Linked DNA regions of Homo sapiens. The protein of the gene in region 1 purifies or fractionates together with the protein of each later gene. This does not show direct contact. Each region holds a gene or a part of one and is shown in the gene's direction. Other genes may lie near its edges.

Region 1 (7,880 bases):
TCCCTTCGGGTTCTTCTACGTACAGGTGTGATGGGAAGTAGGTGGGAGCATCTTTTCATACCCTTGGATCTTCTCAGGGTCCAGGGCCCTGCTGTCCATCTCAAGAGCTTACCAGCACTCTAGGCTATTAAATGAGGGTTGAACTCATGGAATAGGAGTTAGCCTCTCTGGATGATCCACGGGTTGTGCTCTGGCTGCTGTTGATGGGAGTTCATTGTCCAGCGTCAATGGGAAGGATGAACAGCCTGTTTCCTTCCTCTACTGAAGGTCTATAATGCTCCTCCTGCACAAATCCCAAGAGCTGAACAGCTGTCCACAGGGTTCTCAGATACTATGGATGGATGATTTTCACTTGAGTGGAGGTGGTGGGTTTCTGAATTCTGACTCTGGTCAGTCACTGTGTCCTACCAGTTGCTGCCATCAACATATTCCCTGTGCCTTTCCTTCCTTGCTTTTCTCCAGTTGTGAAGCTTTTATTGATTTTTTGAAGGTATGTGTGTACAGGATGGTGGGTGGGTAGCAAAAGGAAAGGAGATATGCTGCGGGACACTGGTTCTGCCTGATTTCCTATTTTTCCATGTATTTTCGTTTTATGCCTGGACATTGACTTCCAAAACTCAAAAGCCAAGAATTTGACTTTTTTTCTGGTGGAGTTATGATAACTCTCCTTTTGACAACACTTCCGGCTGTCCAAATTGATGGGAAGAGAGTTGTACAGGAACAAGAAATACAAGTTGTACAGTGTAGCAAGAAATACAGTGGGGGCGGGGGAATGATGGTGGAAGGGAAATCAGATTAATTAATATATCAAAATGTTATCCTGCCATTCATTTAATGATGATTTATTTTTATGATCTCCTTATTTTGACATCTGTAGAATGTATAGGCTCCTTATACACACACCCCCCCCCCCCCCCACACACACACACACATTTCCCCCTTATCTCTGGTAATAAAGTTCTCAAATGCAAGTCAACAAATGTGTCCCATGAATGGAATAACCAGTGAAGGGGTGTGGATGTGGATGGCTTTTGGTAAATTCAGACAATTCCTCAGGCTGAGTGAGGGAAACAAAGCTACAAATAGCAATGTGTTGCACGCAGTATTCCTGAAATTCAGTCTCCAGTGGCTCTTTGCTCCAGAGAACAAATTCCATCTCAGCCACAGGAGGGCCCCTGCTCCCCTGAACTGCTTGACTCAGACTGGGAATTCAGAGGTAAAATGAGTGGATTCAGGAGCAGAATAACAATAAATGTGGGTGGTGGTTTTTTTTTTTTTTTTTTTTTTTTTTTGTATGGGAGTGAATGGAACATTTGGCTATCATCCAACATTTCCTCAAATTGGTGATGTCTGTGGGTGGCATTTTCAAAGTATTGTTTTGACTATACTTTGGACAAAAGTCCCTAGCCTTGGCTGATCAATGCATATGCAAAAAATGCCCTAACCAGCTCCCTGCCCCCACCCTAATTCACATCTCCACTGTACTGGGGAGTCAAAAGCATGTTTTGGCACAAGTGTACTCTGCTTTAACGTGGCCAAGGGTGCCATGGTCTTCCTAGGGGCGTGCCTGTGCAGGCTGTGCCTGTCACCATGAACAAAGGGCAGGGGCCTCCTCCAAAACCACTGGCTTGGGGCACAGAGCTCAGGCCCCTGCCACCGTGGCTCCTTACAGGCACGATTGTCACCGGATGCAGGGCCAGCTTCCTATAACTGTTTAGTACAGAGCAGCTGGCCAAACTGTGAGCTCACTGTGGCTGCAAACCCATTAAAATATTAACTGTGATGATAAAGATGAATAATTATTGCACCTCCAGGGCATAGATAAGTCTAGTTCTGTCTCCCACCAGCCCTGAAACTCTGCTGTTCAGCTGGCGAGTGTAAGGTCTGGGTTTCGTGGTCCTGTACATAAACAATTAGGACAATAGCTCTTCAGGTTCCAAAGCTTTTGTTTGATCCATTTCTGCTATGAACTGTGATTACTCTCTGCAGAGAGGGGGAATTGAATTATTTTGGGCTAAGTTAGGAGCAGGGTGGACCTAAGTGAAGTGAAATTGTGGGGATGGGGTCTGGTGGGAAGAAGGTGAGCAGAATAGGTTAGCTGGGATTCTCCTTCCCTCCAAGCCTCAGCATAGTTAGGATGCAGCGAAATTGCTCCGGCTGCTGGTACCCATGGCCTTAATCATCTCCAGAGTGGGGTGGTGCTGCTGAGGCCAAGAAAGAATTATTCCAGCGGGGGGTTCCTTTAACTGAGCTTTTACAAGAATCGTGCAGTCTGGCCACAGCAGCTTCTTACACTTGCCTAGGCTGGCTTAACTCCTCTTCTTTCCACAGGGGGTGTGAGGAGATCCAGCTTCCCCATTAGCTTGGGACCTGCGTCTTATTGACTGTGAACACTCGGGACCCCAGTTCTGGGGCCATCTGTGACCTGTCATGCAGTAATAGCTTGGTTTTTCCCGTGTTCAGCTCCTCCCCGAGTACTTAGTGTTAAATCACAGGGGGAGGAAGTGTGAGCAGAGAAAAAACAGCACTATTACATGACCCCCGATGAGACCGCTGTGATAGAATTAAAAGCTGCCGCCCTAGGACATTCTAACAGATGACATTGTGAGGTTGCCAAGGTAACCCACTAGGATACAGTCCCAGCATCTTTGGGGTTGGGGCTGGGTAGGCAAGGTCAGTTAGAAGTGAGACCCAGCTGCCCAGGGTCTCTCCCATGGCTGGCCAGTCCATAGCAGTCAAGTGGAAAATCCAGGCAGCTCTCTACAGAACACAAGTGAATCCAACATTTGGCTCCTCATTAAATATTCCAGGTGAAAGAGAATTGGAACACCCTGGATAATTGCTGAATGCAGGTTAAGAAGAGCCTTGAAAGATCTGCATGCTATTGGCTCATCCACTCATTCCACACATATTTACTGAACACCTACTATGTGCCAGTAGGAAGCATCAGAATATCAAGAAGATCAGGAGTTCTAGAAAACCCTCAAAAATGCAGATCCAAGCAGGGAAAAAAGTCATTTAAGACATTTGCCCATGATTATTAGCACTCGGGAAAATATTGAGTGGAAGAAAATGGAAGCAATCAGAATAGCATATTAACCTCAAGCACTGGTGTCTTAAAAAAAAAAAGCACAAAAAACACAACGGTGTGCAAAAGTTTTATAGAGTGAAAATGATTTGCTTAAAAGAAATCAAGCACACTGCAACTAGGTTATGCTGCATTCCCCCACCCCCACCCTCCTTTTTCCTTTATCTTCTTTTAAATGCCTACCGGTTAACACCTATCAATTTTATTTTCTTTCTGTGGCCTAGTGACCAGCAAAGGATCAGAAAGATTTTGGATGGACCCTGACTTGCAGCAATTCAAGGCCTCGGGCAGATAGATAGCATGAAGACCCCTCCCTTTGGCTTCATAAATGGGTGTTCACAACCTCTGGTGATGCCCCTGAGCAAATGTCCCTGCGCACTACTGTCTGAACCTGGACTTACGTGGTCACCTGGTCTTATTTTCTTTCATGTGGCAAGCTCAAGTGTAGGGGGGAAATGGGGGACACTGGGGATAGTGGTGGTGAGTGTGACACCAGGAAAAGGTGGGGTGGAAAGGGAAAGGAGAAAAACAAATAAAAACAAAACAGTGGTGAGGGAGGGGGAGCAAAACAGAACTAGAAAGGCTATGGAAAGAGAAAATAAGGAAGAAAATCTCTGAGAAGCTGTGGTAACAGGAAGAGTCCCTGAAAACAAAATAGTGCTTCCTTACTTGCTGGAGGAGTGTTATTAGTGCCAGAAGGACCTCATCGAAACACTGCTGGGCCCCTAAACCAGCCCTCCACCCTGTGTGCTCCAGTGCTTAACTTTGCCCACACAGGGTCTTCTTTGCCCAATTAGAAAATGGAGATAATTAATTAAATTATCTCACCCTTCTTGTTCTAGCCCCCTTAAAATAATGATAATAGCTAAGTTATAGAGTGGTTGCTAAACACTTTACATATAATAACCCACGAAGAAGTGCCATGTGACAAATAGGCGCAGAGCAGTTAAGTCACTTACCCAAAGTCACACAGCCAGTAAGTACTAAAGCCAGGAATCCAACCCTGATTATTTGACTTTAAAGTTCCCCCTCTTAACCCCTACACTGTAATTCTGCTTGGTTTAGTTTTACGAAGAAAATATTTTCTAATGGCTCCTTGCCTCACATCTTCACTTTACTAATGCAGCCTGGTTTACTAGTGCTTCACTCTTTATATAATTTTCTCCCTGGGTGCCTCAAGTTGCCACGCAAGGTGATTCTCCAGATCTTCTCAAACCTCTGGACATCTTAAGTAGGTAGACCAAGGGATGGCAACGGAGACAGTGGCATTACCCTTCCCTGAAGCACTAACTCGCAAGAGAGAATTTCAGCAGCACCTGAGATGTTTAGGGATGCTCCCACCTGTGGAATGGGGTCGAGAAATGGTCCTCTCTCAAGTCGGCCCCAACCCCACCCCCAGCCATCAGCACCTTGATGGCAGTCGCCCTTTCAGCATCCTGGCTCAAATCTTGAAGGATCCTTGTCTCCCAGGCGCTCTTCCTGACAGCACACAACCTTGATTAGGAGGGGCTGGGAGGGAGGATCGATGAGCCCCTGACCCCTGGGTTCTGAGGCTGCCAGGGTCGCTTGCAGCTCGGCCGCGTGGAGGTGACCGGGCGGAACTCCGAGGGGGCGCGGGGAGAGCTGGGCGGGCCCACCGCTCCAGCGGCTGCTGTCAGGGGCCGCGAGGCTTTCCCTGAAGATGCAGCGTAGCATATTTTGCACATGAGTTCAGAGGAAGAGGAAGTGTAGCCGGCGGACGCGCGGCGGCGGCGGCGGGGGCGCGTCGGGGCTGGAGCCGGAGCGCGCCGGGCGCTGGGCGCAGCGAGCGAGAGCGCGGCGGCCGCGGGCTCCGGCGAGGGACAGACGCACCGATCGCCGGAGGGACAGACACACGACCACGCGGCGCCACCGCCCACGCCTCCACCCACCGGCGCCCAAGTCCTCCCCGCGCCGCCTCCTCTGTATGGCACAAACTTTCCTCCCGGGACGGAACACGCTGCCTCAGGGAGCCCGCGACCGCGCCTTCTCCTCCGCCGGTCCCATACGGTAGGCGGCGGGGGGGGCGCGACAGGGCTTGGGGTGTCGACCGGCACAGGCCCCTCCGTTTGGCCCCATGGACCGGGTCTCTGGCGGGTAGTGGGAACCGCGCGTGGCGCCTCCCTGCAGGTTGCTCTTTGCCGGGGCTCCGGAGCTGCCAGAGCAGCACCCCCTGGCCCGCGTCGGATGGGGACCTGGGCTGATCCTTGGGACGCCTGGATCTTGGGCCAACTTTTTTTTGCGGGGAACGGGTGTAGGGGAGTCATTCCTGGAGCGATGTAGGGAGAGGCACTTCGGAGCAGCCTGTTGGGGGTCGTAGGCTCTGCAGGCTCAGAAGCGCCTAGGAAGGACGCAGAGGTGGGGGAGCTTGGAGGCTACAGGTGGGTCCAGGACACACTGCCGCTGGGGTCCTCGGAAAAGAACAGGAGGGAGCTGGTCGCGGAGTCCAGGTTTCCGGGGTGCGCGCGGCCTGGGTGGGGCAGGGTGGAGGCGGTGCCTGACTGCCCCTCTGCGTGTGCCCTGGGAGGTGGGTTTGCTCTGGGGACAGAGGTGCTGGACGTGTAGGAGCAGACATGCCGCGCGCTCCGAGGAAGCGCCGGAACCACCAGAAGCACAGGGACGCGGGTGCCGAGAGTCCCCAGCACTGAAAACGGGGATCTCCTCTTCTGTAAGGGATTTTCTTCCCTTGTCTTAACCCACTTCTCTAGACTCAAGGGACGCCAGGATGGATATGGGTCTGGGCGAGGAGGAGGTGGTTGTGTATTTCGGGAAGCCCCGTTGTCAGGCACGCGCACCCCAGTCCTAGGCCAGGGCTGGTGCCCTTCACCTCCGGTGTCGCTGCCTTTGGCAGCAAGAACCGCGTGGAGGCCAAGGTTGTAGAACCAGGCACGCTCCCTGCTGTCTGTCTGTGACTCTGTGCTTGCCCTCAGCTGCCCTGTGTGGTTATGGGTGATCCCTAGGGACGCTGGGTGGTGTCAGTGAGTTTCTTCGGGGGCTTAAAACAAACAAACAAGAAGTACTTTTTTAAAAAAAAAGTCTGGCTCAATCTCTGTCAGTGGTCACCCCAGTTTCCAGCAACTCATGTGCTGGAACCCTTGTAGTCGGTACAGCTGTTTCAGGAGCTGGGCGCTCAACTAGACTAGGCATCTTCCAACCCCTGCCATCGTGTGTCATCTCAGGATAAGTTAAGGCCTTGCCAGGAAGGAAGCCGGGTGTAATGTGAGCGACCTCTGGGCCTGTGGGTAGGGCCTCTCTGCTGCCGGGATTCCTAATTTGTATCTCTGAACAGCTGAATCCCAACGAAGTTCAAGTGACCCCAGATGTCACCAAACCCCAGAGAGGGGTTACGAAGCAAGCTGTTTGGGACTCTTTGGTGCGTGTGTGCTAACCTCAGTGAAATCACTCTAACCTCAGACTGAGCTCTGCATCCTCTTTTGCCTTCAGTGGGGTTTCTGGCCCGCCTGAGTGATTCAAAGCCCCAGAGCTGGCACGTCATCCTCTGGCTGCATTTGTATATCAAGTCACTGGGTTGGTTTTTCTTTGTTTGCTTTTTGGCTGTATGGACATGGGGCAAATGGAAGTGGAGTGTTGTGCAGTTAGCTAGTAGATTTGGTACAGGAATTGAAAGATAATAAATTGGGAATACAAGTCAGTGAGTTCTTTTTCTCCCTCTTGAGCAGGAATTTTTGGCTTACATTCAAATAATTGCTTTGTCTGTAGGGAAACAAGCAGAAAATCTTTGGCATGAGTGATGTGAGTTCCTGTAAAGCTACTTATGTTCTTCCAGTCTTCTCTTTTCAGCAGAATTGAAACTATGTGGTCCCATGGCTTGGTGGGGCATGGTGCTTTGCCAAATTTCTAACTTGGTGGACTAAGGAGAGGACACTGTGACTCTATCCCCATCCCATTTTTTAAGATATAGAAAAGTTGCAAGAACAGTGACCCCCTAAATATACACACCTAGAGTCTAATTCACATTTTGCCATCTTTGCTTAACTACACACCTCCCCCAACCATCCAGCCATCCCTGTGTCCATCCATAAGTCCAGCTGATGGTTTTATGCACTTTAAAGTAAATTACAGATGTTGGTACAGGTCATTCCTAAACATTTTAGTACACATTTTATTATTTTGACTTCAATATGTGCTTATGGTTTCCTTAAGATAAAATTTATATACATATAGTGAAATGTGCAAAGATGGAAAGTACCATTTGCATAATGTTTTGACAGATGCATGCACCTGTGTAACCCTAGTCCTTATCAAGACAGAGAATATTACTGTCACCCCAGCAGGTGCCTTCATCCTCATTCTCAGTCATTCTCTGCCCTCACCCTCTCAGTGGCAACCACTGCCCTGTATCTCATCATAGGTGAGTTTGGCTTGTTCTTGAACTTCATGTAAATGGAATTCTGCAATATTGTGTAAAGCTCACCATATTTTTGAGATTCATCCATGTCGTATCCATGATTTGGTCTTTTTTTATTGCTGACTTATGTTCCGGAGTATGTCTTACTCCACAGTTTGTTTGTATATTCTGTTAATGGATACATGGATTATTTTAGTTTCTTTCTTCTAGTTTCTTTCTTTCTTTCTTTGGTTATTGTGAACAAAGCTGCCGTGAACATTTGTGTACAAGTCTCTGTAGGGACATGTGTTCTCATTTCTCATGGGTAAACACCTAGTAGTAAATTGCTGGGTCAAAAAGGAGATATATGGAAACCTGAAAAGAAACTGCCAGACCTTTTCCCAACATGGTTATACCATTTTACAG
Region 2 (7,033 bases), on another chromosome or scaffold:
CTATACCATCTAGGTTTTTATAAGTACGGTGTATTCTATTTGCATAAAGAAATCACTTAATGACACATAACTTAGAACATAACCCTATCATTAAGCAACAGGTGACTCTGTGTGTGTGTGTGTGTGTGTGTGTGTGTGTGTAGAGGAGAGAAAGAGACCATTATCATATGAGTGTGTTGGGGCTGCTGAGAGGGTTTCGTTTACAAGTGACCTTGAGTGTATTTCATCTCTGGAATGCATGGTCCCTGCGCTCAAGCTACACAATCTGATTAGTGAAGTATTACTAATACACTAGAAAAATATACATAGTAATTACCAAATGACTGACACAATTTTATAGGGGGTTCAGAGAAACATCTGTGAATGGGTAATAATGAAAAAAGAAAAGTTTTTCTCTTTGTTTTAGTCTGACCCTTTTAACAGTCTCTATTCATAATGTGAGGAAATCGCTACAAAAACTGAAATATTGTAGATACTGTTCATTTGCATATGGAAATACTTGTATGCTGTGTGTTGTTCTTTCATGGGACAAACTCTACCCCTCCTCTCTCCACACACATATACACAAGCTATAAGTAGCCTAGCTTTCGCCATAGGAGTTGCTGGCTTTTTTAGTGAGAGTCAAGAGCTGGCTTGGTAAAGTCTTAAAGAATGGAGAAGAGGAGGAAGGAGAGAAGGGAAGAAAGAGGGAGTAAGTGTAACAGTAGAGGGAGAGAGTTAATACACTTGGATGCTGCTTACAAACCAAAAATTAGTCTCCTAATACTAATTTATGATTGTAAGAAAGTATATAAATATCTGACATATAGAAAATAGACAAGTGTTAATTTTAAAGGTATTAATTGCTACAAACTAAATTAATATTTTAAGAATTCATTAAAAATTAGAATATTAGAAGAAAAATATTAACTTTCCCTACTGTGATTAGCTACTAGTTCAGTTTAACTGTCTTCAGCTAATTCTATATTATTGTTTTAATAGAAACCATATACATTCTTATGTGTATATGAGATTTGGACAATTGGTGTCAAGATCAAGTTAAATACAACTTTGTAACAATATTATGTTTTTTTGATTCAGCATGTAAGTATATGCCTCCTTTTATCCAAGGGTACATGTCTTTAAATAGAAACTGTGCTTGAAGAAAGCTGTAGAAGAATTTAATATTTAAATAAATGCTTTTGTAGGATGAAAAGAATTTACAGTGAATATAAAGCTCCTGCTTGACTGTTAATCTAAATTTTAATAATTTGTATTGCTTAAAGTAAGATGTAATTTAAAGTAGTGATTTTTTTGATGTCTTTTATCAGTAATTACTGTTTGAATTTTTATAGGAATCCATGGGAAAGAGCTATGATGGGAGAGCTTATGTCATCACTGGCATGTGGAACCCCAATGCACCAGTATTTCTGGCACTTAACGAGGAAACCCCAAAAGGTGACTTTTCTTAAAAGATCCCTTATTGTTTGCTTTACATTTTATATTATGAACAATGTTGCTTGTCATGTTTTAAAAAAAATTTGGAACTCAAAGTGGACTTATTCTTTCATTGAGAATTTGAGGTTCATTTTTATTCTTTATGCTTCTATGGGGGAAATCTCCACTATTTAAAAAAATCCTCCCCAAAAGATATGTGAATTATTATTATTGTTATTATTTTAAGAGACAGGGTCTCACTCTGTTGCCCAGGGTAGAGTATAGGGGCATTATAGCTCACTGTAACCTCAAACTGTCATGCTCAAGCAATCCTCCCACCTCAGCCTCCTGAGTAGCTATTAAATAGAACTACAGGTGTGTGCTGCCATGCATGGCTAATTTTTAAATTTTATTTTTGTAGCGATGGGGTCATGCTTTGTTGCCCAGGCTTGTCTTGAACCTTTGACCTCAACTGATCTTCTTGCCTTCCAAAGCACTGGGATTACAGATGTGAGCCACTGCACCTGGCCTGAATTAATTTTATTAGATTATAGAGAAAGCATTTGGGCTTTGTTTTTCATATACCACTATAGAGTTATTTCATTTGTGGAGACTAGTGATGGAGAAATATTAAAGAAAATGATGAAAAGGAAATATTTTAGAATTTTGAATATTTTTAAATTATTAACTATTTTTGCATTATAGTTTACTTATAGTTTTTCATTTATTAATTATTGGCTCCAGTCTTTTGGCCTTCGGGATGCTTGTAATATATATTAAATATTTCAGTTGTAGCAAATAGTTTTTTCTTAGTTTTTTAACTTTTCATATTATTTATCATGTCTAGTATTGAACAGAATGTATAAATGTTGAATAGTCACATTTTTCGTTGTTCCATTGTGTTTTTTCATTCCTACTTCATCCAGATAGCTGTTAATTGCCTGTTTTTTGCCCCTTCATTATCTACTTTTAAACTAAATTTAAAGTTTTACCTGCCGAGTTATATGCCTACCCTAAGTGCTTTACTGTCATTAAACCATTAATTCATATTTAGAATATAATGGATCAGTTTGTTTTATCATTAATTTTTATATTATTTAGTTTATACCCACAGTAGACTTTTGGTTACTGACAGGAAGCATTCGTGAATACTGATATGAAAATATAATATGTTAATGAAGGGCATTAAAATGATAATTATTCTTTCATTTCCTTAAAGAGAGTATTCACCATTTATATAAATCACATACATTGATCACATATTAAGCTGTCTAAAAATAAAGGCTAAACAGAAAAAAAGATTATATAAAATTTAACTTTTCATTTATTAGCAGTAAATAATTTTTAGACCCACAATTTGTTATTTCTGGAGACAGGCTTGCAAATACCTGTAACTTCTTTCTTATACTTGTTCAGAAGGAAGCCACAAAAATGATAAAAATAAGCCAGTTGACAGTTTTGAAGAACAAAATATAAGAATTTTGCATATCAAGTTATAAAAATAGTTTTTATGTTTTTAATGTAACACCTAGTTTAGTTTTATTTTGCAATAAAATATATATTTGGTCCACAAAAGAAAATTTATTTATAATTTATTCTATTAAACTATATAATAGTATATTATAATATTCTGATTCAAAGTATACATTTTAAATTTAACATTATCTCATATGCCACACAAAAATGTTGCCCTGATTTTTAAAATTTCTAAATTATGTCCTTGAAATTACACATTACTCAGAGAATGTGTGATCAAATAAAGTTTGATTTTTATGGAAGAAGTTTAGAACCTGAGAGATGAAAAGTCTTGGATCTTTCCACTGCACTAAGATCCAGTTGAATGTTATATTCTGTCTTGTGTTATTACTCCTTACTCCTTTCTCTAAGGTCCTCCAGGTCAAGTATAATGTCTAACAAATTTTAGTTTCTCTTGAATTGGCAGGTGTATTTAGTAAGACTGTATTTAGTAAGAATGTAATAAAATTGTTATTGAATTTGAGAAGTAGTTGATGAATCTGAATGTTATATAATATTTAAAAACACTATTGAGGGTTTCTTCTAGTGGTGGCCTTGGTTATTTGGACTTTCCTTTAACAGAGAACTAAAAATTGTAAAGAAAATAAATTTTAAAAAATATTTAAAAAGGAATGAGGAAATTACAAAATGGTATGGAATGACCAGGCCATAGATTCAAAAACCTCAATGAGGCCAGGTGTGGTGGCTCACGCTTGTAATCCCAGCACTTTGGGAGGCTGATGGGGGTGGATCACCAGAGGTCAGGAGTTTGAGACCAGCCTGGCCAACATGGTGAAACCCCGTCTGTAGTAAAAATATTTTAAAAATCAGCTGGGTGTTGTGGCGGGCACCTGTAATCCCAGCTACTTGGGAGGCTGAGGCAGGAGAATTGCTTGAGCCCTGGAGGCGGAGGTTGCAGTGAGCCAAGATCGCTCCATTGTACTCCAGCCTGGGTGAGACTCTGTCTCAAAACAACAAACACTTAGGATTATTAGTTCCTAAGAAACATGCTTGGAGTACTTGCATACTTATTTAATCAAAATGTGAATAGAACAGTTAAAAATAAACATAGAAGGTATTACAATTGTAAAGAACTTTAATTCTTTCATAAGTGAGGAAACTTTGTTTAAAGTAGACAAGGAATAATAAAGCTCGCATAAAACCCAGAAAATTTCTACTACAGATAAGCAAGTATACATGACTGTGGCAGTGGATATGGTAGTCACAGAGGTGGTGGAGCCTGTTCGCTTTCTCCTGGAGACAGTAGTCCGTGTGTACCCTGCAAATGAGCGATTTTGGTATTTCAGCAGAAAGACTTTCACAGAGACTTTCTTCATGAGATTGAAACAGGTAGGACCTTTTTGTTCTCTTCATATATAGTAACAAACATTTTTCTTTCCACACTTCTTTTTTAATGCCAAGATAATTCCTGAAGTTGCAAAACAATACAATTCCTCAAAGAAATCAAATGATATTTGAAGTCAACCAATAGAGTGTTTGAAAAAGTCACATCTAGGTAATATTAGCTAAAAAAACCCAGCAAGTTTAATAATTACATACTTTTTCCCTAGAAACCTGTAATGTATGAACCTTCTTAACAGAAATATTGACTGCATATAAAACAACGTTTCTGCCTTTTATAAACAATTACTTAAAACCAAAAAGGCAGTGCACAGAAATATCATATGCTTATAAAATTTTAATGAAAATGTTTCTAAGAAATACCTAATTTCTATAGTTATTTCTGCCTGTAATATTAGATAGACAATATTATATGAACATCTTGTTTGACTCATCAGTGAGGTTATAAAATTATTTTAATATTAAATGAACAAAATTATGGTTTCTATGATATCCTCAAATTAGGCAGTATTAGTAGATAAAATATGTAACTTTTGTATTATAGCAAAGGAAGCAGATAATAATGAAAAATAACTTGAATGCTAATTGTGTGAGTTTTTAAAAAATCAGGATAAAAATGCTCTATTAGAATAATGAACATCTTTTATATGCTGTTTTTGTTAGTACTTTCATTCTCCCAAGTTTTAAAATGCTTGCTGCTTCATATACTATAATATGTGGACTGCTGTGTGATAAAAGCAGGCACCAGTACAGGAAACAAATATAGAAGCCTCTTACCCATTTTCATATTAAAAAAACTGCCATGGCGCATCTCGGCTTTATATACTATGTACTTGGAAATTATTGTGGTTTTAAAAAAATCTTTCATAAAATTATTATGGCTGTTATTTGACTCAGTTTTTATTACTGTGTGAACTGCTTTTATAGCATATTCTAATGAAGGTTATGTGAGCAATATTCAAACTTCAGTCTCCTGAGCATCTTTTAATATTTTATTATGAGACTTTTTTCCTGTCTTCCTTCCTCCCCATCCTTCTTTTTTAAAAAAATAGCTTAGTTATGACTATCCAATAATTCTTCATTTTGAGCCAAAGAATTATTCATAGTTGCATAATCGTGAATAAAGGAGCTGGAGCTGTATAGAAAGTTGTCATTCTTCTAATGATGATAAATTATAATGTAAATTATACCTCCTAGAGATCTGAGAAAATGTTAGGTTTTTCCCAGTTCTAGTACTTTTGACTGTCTGTCTGCCTGGAGAGAGAGAGAGAGAGAGAGAGAGAGAGAGAGAGAGAGAGAGACATTAAAGTAATTGTTAAAATTCATGTAAGTAATTATTGCAAGACCTGAGACTATAACTCCTTACCTTAAGCCAGAATATGCTGCTGTAAGGCCAGACTAGCTTCTTTCTACACCTCCAAAAGGTGGGTTGGTTTGGGGTGGTTGATGGTAATCTGGAGATGTTGGTCTACACTATACAACATTGGTAGAAAGAATGAATTAGGTGATTACCTAATGCAATTCAAAGTAACCTTTGAAAATCTGGGTCCAGGCCATTACTACTTTAAAGAAATAAAGAGAGAATGCATTGATTTCAGTTCTAAGTGATTTAGACACCTAGAACTTTTTCTTTCATTCTGAGAGTGTTGAACTTATTGAATGAAACCAGAACTTGTCCTGTACCCAGACAGGATTAGACCAGACTCCTGGGGGCAACACCAAAGTACATGAGATGCCCTGTTCCCAAACTATTTTTTCTTGGCAACTTTCTTCTCTCAAATATAGCAGAACTTTATGTGTGGGCAGTGGGGATGTATGAAAGTCTGCTTTGTTCCTGTTTACTGTCCACTCAGGGCCAAATGGCATTTCATTTCATTCATTGTCCATTTACTGGGAGCAAGGAGAGCACTTAACAAGAGGATGGAAACTAGAGTCTGGGAAAGTAAACTAGAGGCTGGGAAAGTAAACTAGAGAAAGTCCTTTTGTGTCCGGAATTGGTTCCTTTCAGTGGGTTCTTGGTCTTGCTGACTTCAAGAATGAAGCCGCGGACCCTTGCGGTGAGTGTTACAGTTCTTAAAGATGGTGTGTCCAGAGTTTGTTCCTTCAGATGTACAGATGTGTCTGGAGTTTCTTCCTTCTGGTGGGTTAATGGTCTCACTGACTTCAAGAGTGAAGCCGCAGACCTTTGCAGTGAGTGTTACAGCTCTTAAAGGTGGCGTGTCTGGAGTTGTTTGATCCTCCCGGTGGGTTCGTGATCTTGCTGGCTTCAGGAGTGAAGCTGCAGACCTTCGCGGTGAGTGTTACAGCTCATAAAGGTAGTGCGGACCCAAAGAGTGAGCAACAGCAAGATTTACTGTGAAGAGCAAAAGAACAAAGCTTCCACAGAGTGGAAGAGGACCCGAGCGGGTTGCTGCTGCTGGCTTAGGTGGCCAGCTTTTATTCCCTTATTTGGCCCAGCCTGCGCCCTGCTGATTGGTCCATTTTACAGAGCACTGATTGGTCCATTTTACAGAGCGCTGATTGGTCCATTTTACAGAGTGCTGATTGGCCTGTTTTTACAGAGTGCTGTTTGGTGTGTTTACAAACCATTAGCTAGACACAGAGCACTGACTGGTGCGTTTTTACAGAGTGCTGATTGGTGTGTTTACAAACCTTTAGCTAGACAGAGTGCTGATTGGTGCGTTTACGCTCCTTTAGCTGGACAGAAAAGTTCTCCAAGTCCCACCCGACCCAGAAGCCC
Region 3 (6,197 bases), on another chromosome or scaffold:
CAAGTGGGGATGTGAGCCAGGAAGAGTTTTCAGGCAGAGAGGACAGCGTGAAAGCCGCAAATTGGGGCCAGGCATGGTGGCTTATGCCTGTAATCCCAGCACTTTGGAAGGCCGAAGAGAGCAGATCACCTGAGCTCAGGAGTTTGAGACCAGCCTGGGCAACATGGCGAAACCCCATTTCTACCAAAAAAAAAAAAAAAAAAAATTAACCATTTGCAGTGGTGTGTGCCTATAGTCCCAGCTACTCAGGAGGCTGAGGCAGGAGAGTTGTTTGAGCCCAAGAGGCAGAGGTTGCAGTGAGTTGAGATCGCCCTATTGCATTCCAGCCTGGGCAACAGAGTAAGACTCTGTTTCAAAAAAAAAAAAAAATGCTGGAAGCTGGAAGCATCCTGACATTTCCAGGAGCAGCAGAGCCTGTGCATAACCAGCGACCCAGAATGTTTCTTTTGAGTCTTACAAGAGACGAACCCCTCAGGGCTTTTGAGGAGAGGCCTCTGTGGGGTGGGGCTCTGCAGCAATCAGGGAGGGCTAGTGAGCAGGTTCAGGAGAGCCTAGATGGGGGCTGGCCACAGGTTCAGCTGCGGATGGGGTGTGTGAGATACAGAGAGTGGTACAGAGGGTTCAAGGTTTGGGCCTGGGAAATTGCCTGGGGCAGGGGGGTCCCACTTGCTCAGAGTGAGCCAGGCCAGTGCTGGGCTTCCCAAGGAGCCGCTAGAGGCAAAGGGCAGAGGGGCCTCAGGCTGCTCGGGTTGGTGGGCTGTGCTGCAAGAACCTGCGGGAGATGAGTGTCAGAGCAGGGGGCCAGGGGCCTCTCTGAGACCTGATGGCCAGCCAGCGGGTGTGCAGGAAGAGGGGGAAGGAAGGCTCTCCACGGAGAGGGGCTACGAGAGCAAAGTCCTGAAGGCAAAACAGGCCTGGACTCCTTGAGGGGCAGAGACCAGTGCAGCTGGCATGGGAAGCAAGAGCAGGGTCAGGTCTGGAGGGAGAGGCAGGTCCCTGCTGGGCATAGAATAGAGAAGGGGTAGGGGCCGGGCATGGTGGCTCATGCCTGTAGTCCCAGCACTTTGGGAGGACGAGGCAGGCAGATCACTTGAGGCCAGGAGTTCGAGACCAGCCTGGCCAACGTTGTGAAACCCTGTCTCTACTAAAATTAGCTGGGTGTGGTGGCACATGCCTGCAATCCCAGCTACTGGGGAAGCTGAGGCAGGAGAATCGCTTGAACCCGAGAGGCAGAGGTTGCAGTGAGCCGAGATCACGCCACTGCACTCCAACCTGGGCGACAGAGTGAGACTCTGTCTCAAAAAAAGAATAGAGAAGGGGTCTGGGGCCAGCCCTTCCCTCCCTCTTGGGGCCCTGCTTACCTGGCCAGGCCTCTGTCCACCCCACAGGTAAGCTTCCAGCACGAGGTGTACCCAGCGGAGCCAGCCACAGGCCCTGCGGCCCCCAGCCAGGAGCTGGAGGAGCGACCGCTGTCCCGTCAGGTGTTCATCGTGCAGGAGCTGGAGGTCCGAGACCGGCTCGCCTCCTCCCAGATCAACAAGTTCCTGTACCTACACACGAGTGAGCGGATGCCGCGACGTGCCCACTCTAACATGGTATGAGCGACCTGCACCATCCACCCTGGGGCAGGGCACCAGACCGTTGGGGATACATCTTCACGCATGCATGGATTCACACACATACACGCATTCCCACACAAACACCCAGGTTGTTTGTGAGCCTGGGAGAAGGGCAGAGCTAGGGGCTGTGTTAGCGAAGGGAACAGCGTGTTCAGAGGCAGGGTGGCTGGGTGAGCTGTCAGGGAACAGCTGGGTGAGCTGCTGCCCCAGAGGCCCAGCAGGTGTCCAGAACTCACCCTCTGCTCCCAGCTCACCATCAAAGCGCTGCATGTGGCCCCCACTACCAACCTGGGTGGGCCTGAGTGCTGTCTCCGCGTCTCGCTGATGCCCCTGCGGCTCAATGTGGACCAGGTGAGTGGTCTACGTGAGGGCAGAGCCTAGGGTGACCCCACTGTCTCCAGGCCTCTGAGTCTGATCCACATCTGGACCTCTCCCTTGCAGGATGCCCTCTTCTTCCTCAAGGACTTCTTCACTAGTCTGGTGGCCGGCATCAACCCCGTGGTCCCAGGGGAGACCTCCGCTGAGGGTGAGAGGCTGGGCCAGGGAGGGGAGCGTCTGGGCCTTCTGCCTCCCAGGACAGCACAGGTTCCCAGTCATTCCTGGCCCCATCCCCAGTCTGTGACCTCCCCTCCCCTAGCTCGCCCCGAGACTCGAGCCCAGCCCAGCAGCCCCCTGGAAGGGCAGGCCGAAGGCGTAGAGACCACTGGTTCGCAGGAGGCCCCAGGAGGTGGACACAGCCCCTCCCCTCCTGACCAGCAGCCCATCTACTTCAGGTAGGCTGCTGGACTGCGGGTGGGGGGCCCTGGGCCAGATTGCTGGGGGCCAGGCCAGTGAGCAAAGAACCCCCTCTTCCTGCTCCCCTACCCAGAGAGTTCCGCTTCACGTCTGAGGTCCCCATCTGGCTGGATTACCATGGCAAGCACGTCACGATGGACCAGGTGGTAAGTGGGGCGGTCGGATGGGGTGGCCATGTGGGGTCAGCTGTGGCTGAGTCCCTCTGGGGGCCAGGTCTTGCATCCAGGCACTGTTAGCAGCCAGGGCGCTCTCCAGTGGCTCCCATGGGCTAGCTAGCTCCCTGAGTCCCATTGGGTAAACCTGGACCCCCTCCCTCTCCCAGGGCACTTTTGCTGGCCTCCTCATCGGCCTGGCCCAACTCAACTGCTCCGAGCTGAAGCTAAAGCGGCTCTGTTGCAGGCACGGGTGAGTCCCCAGCACCCCAGCCTCTCTCCAGGGTCCCTGATCTTCCTTCTGTTCTGGTCCTGACTGGTTGTGTGGCCTTGGCCAAGTCATCACCCTTCTCAGGGCCTCAGTTTCTCCTCTGTAAAAAGGACGCAGTTGGCTGGGCATGATGGCTCACACATTCAGGCATTCGAGACCAGCCTGACCAACATGGTGAAACCCCCCCGTCTCTACTAAAAATACAAAAATTAGCCAGGCGTGGTGGCATACACATGTAATCCCAGCTACTCAGGAGGCTGAGGCAGGAGAACTGCTTGAACCTGGGAGGCGGTTGCAGTGAGCCAAGATCGCACCACTTCACTCCAGCCTGGGCAACGGAGCAAGACTCCATCTAAAAAAAAAAAAAAAGGACACAGTCCCTCTGCACATGACTGGGTGGGACCACAGGGAGGGTAGAGTGCCCACAGTACTTGCCACAGGGGTACTGAGTCCTCCTGACCCCACAATCCCTCCATGTGTGGCTCTGCCTCACCTTCTGCCTCCTCACCTCCCTGCCCTGCCAGGCTCCTGGGTGTGGACAAGGTGCTGGGCTATGCCCTCAACGAGTGGCTGCAGGACATCCGCAAGAACCAGCTGCCCGGCCTGCTGGGAGGCGTGGGCCCCATGCACTCGGTTGTCCAGCTCTGTGAGTGTCTAGGTTTGGAAGCCCTCGAAACTGCTTTTACCCTTGGGCAACCTAGAAGCTGCCATTGGGAATAAGAGGAGGAGGTGGGGGCAGGGCAGCCTCGGGTGTCTCTGAGCGCTCCTTCCCCCTAGTCCAAGGGTTCCGGGACCTGCTGTGGCTGCCCATTGAGCAGTACAGGAAGGATGGCCGCCTCATGCGGGGGCTGCAGCGAGGGGCTGCCTCCTTTGGCTCATCCACAGCCTCTGCCGCCCTGGAACTCAGCAACCGGTTGGTACAGGCTATCCAGGTGAGTGGGTGCCCTGTATCTGGGCTGTGCAGGACAGAGCAGCTGGAGCCCTCTGCACCACAGCTCCCTGGTTCTGTCCTCAAAGCTCCTCAGAGTGGGCAGTCTGGGTATGACAGCCCTACTTTATAGAGAAACAGCCACGGAGAGGCTAAGTGACTTGCCTGGGACCTCCAAGCCAGGTCTCCCGAGGCCCACAGGGGCTCCCATGCAGGAGCGGGAGTGCCCCCCAGGCCTTCAGAGCCCACTGTGTCTCCTGCTCATGGCATGTCTTGTAAAGGGGGGTGGAGGACGGCTGTGTTTGCAGACTAAGAATCTGAGGCGCAGAGGCTGCCCTGGTTCATTCAGGCCATACGCTTCGCTAGGCCAGAAGGACCCCAGGGAAGCTGGGGAGCCAGTCTCGTGGGCAGTTGTCAGATGAATTCTGTAGGGGATCGATGGTCCTAGGCGGCTAAGGGGTGAGTGCAGGTGCATGGTGCATTCTGGAACCTGCAAGCTCAGACCCCAACAGGACAGAGGGCAGGGCTCCAGGGGAGGTGGGAGGGATGCATGGGCACCAGGGAGCCCCCGGGAGTGTTCAGTCAGGTGGGAAAGAGTGATGCCAGGTGAGATGCTGGGCAGAGGATCTGGCAGACAGAAGGAAGGATGGGCCTCTGACCATCTGGCAGGGGCGTCTGGGGGGCCAGGCAAGGAGCGGTCAGTCTCAGGCGTGCAGCTGCGGCAGCCATGTGGAACCTGCTGAATGTGGTGGTCAGCAGGAAGAGAGGTTTGGGTTGAGAAGACTTTAGGAAAGTCCCCTGAGGAGTCCCACGTTCCTAGGTTCCCTCAGCAGAGTGGCAGGTGCCTAGGAAGGGGAGGAAGAGTGGGAGGAAGTGGGGAGTGAGGCTGAGCAGGACCCCCTAGGCCAGCACAGTGACAGGCAGGGAGGCTGAGGGCTGGTGGGGTCTCAGACTGTCCTGGGGGCCTGGGGCTGACGTGTGCCCCAGCCAGCTGTCCTCATCCAGTGCTCCCATGTCCCCCAGGCCACAGCTGAGACCGTGTATGACATCCTGTCCCCGGCAGCCCCCGTCTCCCGCTCCCTGCAGGATAAGCGCTCTGCGCGGAGGCTGCGCAGGGGCCAGCAGCCTGCCGACCTGCGGGAGGGTGTGGCCAAGGCCTACGACACAGTGCGAGAGGTGACCAGGCCCCCGCCCTGCCCCAGTCCCCCATGCCCATCTCCTCACACAGACCCCGCCCTGACCTCTGGCTTCCACAGGGCATCTTGGATACAGCTCAGACCATCTGTGACGTGGCATCGCGGGGCCATGAGCAGAAGGGGCTGACGGGCGCCGTGGGGGGCGTGATCCGCCAGCTGCCCCCGACTGTGGTGAAGCCGCTCATCCTGGCCACGGAGGCCACGTCCAGCCTGCTCGGGGGCATGCGCAACCAGATTGTCCCCGACGCCCACAAGGACCACGCCCTCAAGTGGCGCTCGGACAGTGCCCAAGACTGAGCCTGGGGTGCCCGGCACCCAGAGGGTGCTGCCCACCATGCTCCTGAGCCTCCCAAGAGCTGCAGCCCACGGGCCCGGCCCGGCCTGGCCCTTCAGGGGATGGCCACTGTGAAGGACGCCTTCCCAGCCTGCCCGTTGCCAATCTGCTGTGAGAGGGGGGCCTCCCTGCCTTGGGGCCTTAGCCCTGGCTCTGCACTTTTCCTCCGGGGAGAAAGGACACTGCCCCTCCCCCGACCTGGGCCCACACTGCTGCCTTCTCCCAGGACGGAGGCTTTTGGACCCTCGGACCCCATCCCACTCAGCCAAGTGTCTTTCTGTGTCTGGGGGGAGGAGGGGATGATATCCGTGTGGTTCGATGTATTATTTTTAAGCTCCGTGAGTGCGTGGGTCAGTGTCTGCATGAAGTGGAATAAACTGCCCACCGCCAGCCCCCCTCTCAGATCCTCTGTCCCTGTGAACCCTGGCCTCAGCCTTGACCTTGGCCCCGCCCCAGATCCCACCTCTGCACCCAGCACCTCCCATGTCACCACCAGGGGTCGCCATGCCTCCTGGCCTTGCCCAGCAGATCAGGGCACAGGGGGACCCAGAGGCACCCAGCCCTGCACGCCTTCCCCTGGCTCTGGGCTCTGCCTTGCCCCTCCCAGGAGGCTGCCACTCCAGCCCCACTCCTGATGTGGCAGGAGCTACGTGGGGCTGCCAGGGGAGGGAGGGATGGTCCTTGGAGCCCAGCTGACCCTGCCTGGTTGTCACTTGAGGCCACTCGGGGAAGGCTGAGCCTGAGGCATTCTAGATGTTGCTCTCACCATCCCTAGTGGGGGCTTTTGGGGTGGCCCAGGCCTTGGCCCCTTGGTTTCCACTCTGATCTGGGGTCCCAGCTCCAGCACTTGGAGGGGGGAGGGGTGCTGGAGCAGCGCTGCAGCCGGAATCCCAACCCTCACT

The links. Proteins that work in one complex are often made in the same cells at the same time.
Region 2: the proteins of RFTN1 (region 1) and RABGAP1L purify together in Homo sapiens (affinity purification with mass spectrometry; 3 studies listed by BioGRID and IntAct, with this or other methods). This does not show direct contact.
Region 3: the proteins of RFTN1 (region 1) and ATG2A purify together in Homo sapiens (affinity purification with mass spectrometry; 2 studies listed by BioGRID and IntAct, with this or other methods). This does not show direct contact.

What each region holds. Positions count from the first base shown.
Region 1 is NC_000003.12:16,510,678-16,518,557, reverse strand, and holds the start of RFTN1 (raftlin), read left to right. Parts: upstream 1-4,858; 5' UTR 4,859-5,116; exon of another isoform or gene 5,117-5,487; intron 5,488-5,641; exon of another isoform or gene 5,642-5,774; intron 5,775-7,880. UniProt on the Homo sapiens protein: Involved in protein trafficking via association with clathrin and AP2 complex.
Region 2 is NC_000001.11:174,274,499-174,281,531, forward strand, and holds part of RABGAP1L (rab GTPase-activating protein 1-like), read left to right. Parts: intron 1-601; exon of another isoform or gene 602-691; intron 692-1,334; coding exon 1,335-1,437; intron 1,438-4,114; coding exon 4,115-4,281; intron 4,282-7,033. UniProt on the Homo sapiens protein: GTP-hydrolysis activating protein (GAP) for small GTPase RAB22A, converting active RAB22A-GTP to the inactive form RAB22A-GDP. Plays a role in endocytosis and intracellular protein transport.
Region 3 is NC_000011.10:64,894,034-64,900,230, reverse strand, and holds the end of ATG2A (autophagy-related protein 2 homolog A), read left to right. Parts: intron 1-1,388; coding exon 1,389-1,595; intron 1,596-1,793; exon of another isoform or gene 1,794-1,868; coding exon 1,869-1,970; intron 1,971-2,060; coding exon 2,061-2,145; intron 2,146-2,256; coding exon 2,257-2,392; intron 2,393-2,487; coding exon 2,488-2,560; intron 2,561-2,736; coding exon 2,737-2,819; intron 2,820-3,361; coding exon 3,362-3,483; intron 3,484-3,614; coding exon 3,615-3,769; intron 3,770-4,788; coding exon 4,789-4,941; intron 4,942-5,021; coding exon 5,022-5,258; 3' UTR 5,259-5,685; downstream 5,686-6,197. UniProt on the Homo sapiens protein: Lipid transfer protein involved in autophagosome assembly. Tethers the edge of the isolation membrane (IM) to the endoplasmic reticulum (ER) and mediates direct lipid transfer from ER to IM for IM expansion.